Linked DNA regions of Homo sapiens: region 1 is linked to region 2. Evidence: fine-mapped expression QTL. Tissue or cell type: whole blood. Region 2 holds a variant in brackets; the other region holds the start of a gene. All regions are shown on one strand. Distances are between the middles of the regions.

Evidence for each region. PIP is the estimated chance that this variant, and not a neighbour inherited with it, causes the effect.
Region 1: it holds the start of REM2, and the variant in region 2 is fine-mapped to the expression of REM2 in whole blood (TOPMed, PIP above 0.99).

What each region holds. Positions count from the first base shown.
Region 1 is chr14:22,881,689-22,884,302 of GRCh38, reverse strand. REM2 (RRAD and GEM like GTPase 2) reads right to left here and starts at 1,081. Exons shown (of 5, transcript NM_173527.3): 1 at 913-1,081. The coding sequence starts at 1,015. It overlaps LRP10 (LDL receptor related protein 10), which reads right to left. Exons shown (of 7, transcript NM_014045.5): 7 at 2,590-2,614. RefSeq lists enhancers at 292-829, 830-1,368.
Region 2 is chr14:22,911,897-22,914,396 of GRCh38, reverse strand. All of the region lies in intron 1 of RBM23 (RNA binding motif protein 23), which reads left to right. Among named protein-coding and RNA genes, the nearest start is that of RBM23, 6.0 kb to the left of the region's middle. The variant C/T (reference allele first, on the strand shown) is at 1,004.

The DNA.
Region 1 (2,614 bases), 30 kb after region 2:
CTGCCTCTTTTTCCATCAAGAGGCCCTTCCTCCTCCTGTTTCCAGCACTGGTAATCCCCAAACTGAGGAGCAGAGAGGATGACAAGCTGAAACTGCTGCCCAGTGTCTGGGGAGTAGGTATAGCAGAGTAAAAAACTTTGTAGTGAGCTTCTTCCTAGGAAAGGGCCTTTGCTTTTTGAGATGATGTGCGTGCTGGGTCTCTGTGGGTTCTCTGTGTGTGTGTGTGAGAGAGAGAGAGGGGCTGCTGCTTCCCGTGGCCCTGTAGGTGAGCATCCCTCATTGCGTGGTTGGATGTGAGAATCCTGCATCCCTGTCTGTCCCTGTGAGTGGGAGAGAATATTGTGTTCATAGAGCAGTAGAAGTAGAGAGAGAGAGATAGTGTGTGTGTGTGTGTGTGTGTGTGAGCGAAAGGGAGAGTGACAATGCGTGGGTCAGGGTAACTGGAGGAGGAACAACAGACACAACAAAGGGGGCTAGAGGGAGGCTGGAAATAGCCCAGGATCAATACTTGGCCAGCAGCCAGGGCCTCCAGCAGCCAGAAGAACCCTTACAATAGTTCCCCGGGGTAGCCCCTGCCTGTGATTCCCAGGCTTGTGGGCTGCCCCTTTCCTCTCCCCTTCCTTCTTGCCTGTTCCAGCCTCGGGAATGAGGCTGAGCTAGGGGCCATGTACCAGTTTCTCAAGCAAAGCCCTGGGAGTGCTGGGGGAGGGGGCATTTAGGCAGCTCTTCCCCTCCACCCTAGCCCAGCCCCAATCCCTTGTGTGAGCAGGGGTCTTCTCCACTTTCTCAATTGCTCTTCTCCTCTTGCTGACTGAGCTCAAGCTCCCTCAACCCCTAGTTCTGACCTCCCCACCAAAGCTTCAGCTCCCACCCCCATGGTTTCAGCCGGAACCTGCCCAGGTTAGCCCTCACCTGGTGTGGGCGTCCCTGGAGGGGAGGCCCGGCGGCTGCCAGAGGGGCAGAGTGCTGTGGTTTCTGTGTCCATGTCCATGTCTGTGTCCAGGTCCGTGTGCATCAGTGTGCGTGTGCGTGTGCGTGTGCGTGTGCAGCCCAGCAGCTCGCAGCACCCTCTCCCTCACTCAGCAGCACTGTCAGCTTTTCCCTTTAAATACCACCCCCCCCCCCGACACACACACATGCCCTCCCCCCTAGACACCTGGGGAAATTGTCCCACCCCCTGATGAGGTCACACATGCTAATGAGCAGTGATGTCAGCGGGATTCCCTCCTTTCTGCCCCCCCTCCCTTTTCTTTGTGTCGCTTCTCTCTGGGAGCACACACACTGCAGAGCTTGGTTGAGTTATGACAGAACAGTCAAGGGGCAGAACAGACAAGGGTTGCAGGGGGTGTCAGTGGGTAAGGGAGCTCAGGGTGACAGAAGGCAGGGACCTGGGGAGGTGAAGGTCTTTCTCCAGCAGCCAGGACTACGCATCATTTGTCTTTGTATTTCCAGACCCCTAGCCCAGTGTCTAGCCCAGAGAGCGTGCTCAGTGGCTGCACAGGGGCAAGAGGCAGAAAGATTAAAAGCTGGTCTGAAAGACAAAGAGATGCAGGCCAAAAGAGGTGTGGGGACTGAGGGTCAGCCACCCTGCCACCTTTTCCTTCTCCACCCTGCCTCTTCTGGGCTAAGAGCCACGAAAGTACTCATTTCCCAGCCCCTAGGCAGATGCGGGCTCTGAGGAAGGAAATTCAGCTGCTTCATTTGGGCAGCTTCATTTTGCCACTAAGTTCAGGTAGGGGCAAACCACTGTGGAGACTCTTCCACCTTCTCTCCCTGCCAGGCCCACCAAGCTAACGATAATCAGAGCAGGAAAAAAGGGTGAGACAAAGCTAGCTATCTCAAACACGAGGTTCCCAATCTTAAGTGGGTGGGGAAGGGGGAGTGCCAGCTACCCCCCAACTCCCCTACCCACTGTTAATGTTTTTTTGGTGCAGCTGCCAGGCCTTCTGGGCTATGCAAGGCAGGTACGCAATGGGTGATGTCTGCCTGTTTGTAGGAAGCCCAGATAGCACATCTCTTTTACCGTTCTTTTTCTGCCCAGTTCCCTTTCCCTTCAGGTTCCTTCTCCTGCCCCTTTCCTTCTTGTCCTCCTTCCTGACACCCTTAAGCTCCCAGACACACGTTCCGATTTCCTTTCCTTGCCCCGTTTTTGCCAGATGCTGTGCTAAGTACTTTCTTGCATTATCTCCTTTCATCTTCTTGAGCCCAAGGCCCACAGTGGTAGGTGGGTGCCCCGTCCCTAAAGCAATCTTGCAGCTGGAAAATGGGAACACCAGGAATCCCACCCACATCTTTCCAGTGCCAAGGATTTTTCATTTCTACATTGTGCAGCTTTCCTTCTCTTAAATATTCCAACTGTCTCCTATTATTGGGAACAGTCTATATTGCTATCCTCAGTGGACTCTTCCAATGGAAGAGGCAAAGAATAATCTTGGGAACAATGTGCAGTGACACTTCACTTATTTGGAGGTCAGCTATAGGGCAACAGTGCAGGGTTTGAGGGAGCAGAAAGGACCCCTCAGCTGCTAAAATACTCCTGTGCTTTACTCACTGGGTAGATTCTCCAGTCCTCAGTCATGGCCTACTTACTTTTACTTTTTACTTACTTTTATTC
Region 2 (2,500 bases):
CTTCAGCCTCCTGAGTAGCTGGGATTACAGGTGCTTGCCACCACACCCGGCTATTTTTTTTTTTTTTTTTTTTGAGACAGAGTCTTGCTCTGTCACCAGGCTGGAGTGCAGTGGCACGATCTTGGCTCACTGCAACCTCTGTCTCCCGGGTTCAAACGATTCCCCTGCCTCAGCCTCCTGAGTAGCTGGGACAACAGGCGTGCGCCACCATGCCCAGCTAATTTTTGTGTTTTTAGTAGAGATGGGGTTTCACCATGTTGGCCAGGATGGTCTCGATCTCTTGACCTTATGATCAAACTGCCTCGGCCTTCCAAAGTGCTGGGATTACAGGTGTGAGCCACCATGCCCAGCAAATTTTTTTTTTTTTTTTTTTGAGACAGAGTCTTGGTCTGTCACCCAACCTGGAGTGCAATGGTGCCATCTCGGCTGGCTGCAACTTCCGCCTCCCGGGTTCAAGCAATTCTCCTGTCTCAGCCTCCCAGGTAGCTGGGATTACAGGGATGCGCCACCATGCTTGGCTAATTTTTGTATTTTTGTATTTTTTTTTTGAGATGGAATCTTGCTCTGTCACCCAGGCTGGAGCACAGTGGCGCGTTCTCGGCTCATTGCAACCTCCACCTCCTGGGTTCAAGCAGTTCTTATGCCACAGCCTTCCAAGCAGCTGGGACTACAGGTGCGTGCCACCACGCCTGGCTAATGTTTTGTATTTTTAGTAGAGATGAGGTTTCACCATATTGGCCAGGCTGGTCTCAAACTCCTGACCTCATGACCGTGCCCAGCCTTAATTTTTATATTTTTAATAAAGACGAGATTTCACCATATTGTCAGGTTGGTGTCAAACTCCTGACCTCAGGTGATCCACCTGTCTTGGCCTCCCACGGTGCTGGGATTACAGGTGTGAGCCACAACTCCTGGCCCCAAAGTTGGTCCCAAAGTTTTTCTTGTGCCCTTTTAATTTTTTTTAATTTTTTTTTTTTTTTTTTGAGACGGAGCCTTGCTCTGT[C/T]GCCCAGGTTGGAGTGCAGTGGCGCGATCTCGGCTCACTGCAAGCTCTGCCTCCCAGCTTCATGCCATTCTCCTGCCTCAGCCTCCCGAGTAGCTGGGACTACAAGCACCCGCCACCACGCCCGGCTAATATTTTGTATTTTTAGTAGAGACAGGGTTTCACTGTGTTAGCCAGGATGGTCTCGATCTCCTGACCTCGTGATCCGCCCGCCTCGGCCTCCCAAAGTGCTGGGATTACAAGCATGAGCCACCGCGCCCGGCCTTCTTGTGCCCTTTTAAAATCTTTTTCTCCCAGCCCTTCCCCTTACTTCTATCCCTAGGCAACCATTGATGTGCTTTCTGCTTTCTTTGATATAGTGATTAGTTTGCTTTTTTTTTTTTTTTTTTTTTTTTTTTGAGACTGAATCTCACTCTGTCTCCAGGTTGGAGTGCAGTGGCACAATCTTGGCTAACTGCAACCTCCGCCTCCTGGGTTCAAGTGATACTCCTGCCTCAGCCTCCCGAGTAGCTGGGCCTACAGGCGCGTGCCACCACGTCCAGCTAATTTTTGTATTTTTAGTAGAGACGGGGTTTCACCATGTTGGCCTAGATGGTCTCGATATGTTGACCTCGTCGTTGACCTCGTGATCTGCCCGCCTCGGCCTCCCAAAGTGCTGGGATTACAGGCATGAGCCACCGCGCCTGGCCTAGTTTGCATTTTTTAGAATTTTATGTAAATGGAATTGTTCATTGTGTACTTTTTGTGGGGGGGGCTGGTTTCTGTCACTCCGTGTAATTATTTTGAGATTCATCCATGTGTGGGTTGATAATTCCAGACCAATAACATTTGAATAATTTATCCTATTGGTTTTCTTTGGTATTTTCTGTTTTTCTTATTTGACAAACTGGTGGTAGACAGCCTGGGGAGAGGCAGTTTCTAGATGTGAAAGCTTGGGGAGGCACGTTTTACCTTGCCTGCCAGAGAGAAAGGTTTCAAGATGGGATTAGTCGAGCCTGTCTTAATCATCATATTTCTGAGTTACCTAAACTGTAGTTGGTATTGGTTAGAAAATGCTCAGGGATAAGGCCCTAATTATTGGTGTTCAGGGTATGCGGAGAGGAAGACGTTAGGGCAAATCTGCATTTTGGTGTTGCTTTGACTTGCTTCTGATTTTTAGTCGTGCCTCTTTATCTTTTTATTGGACATAATGTGCCTATATTTGTTTATTATTTTTTCGTTTTATATTTTTCTCACATCTGTAGCAGCCAGGCCTGTTTTTATTATTTGAGTTTAAACCAGGTATTTATTCAGAATTTTGAACAGTAGAGTGGAGACCTAATGTCTATTTTATAGTGAACAGTAGTTTGGCCACCATCATTTTCTCTTCATAGAACAGGATCAGTGTTGTATTTTGTTTCTTCCTAGATACTCAGTTTTCTTCTATATCCTTGACTATTTTTTTATGTATTGTTTTTTGTGTTTTTTGTTTGTTTGTTTTGTTTTTGAGACAGGGTCACA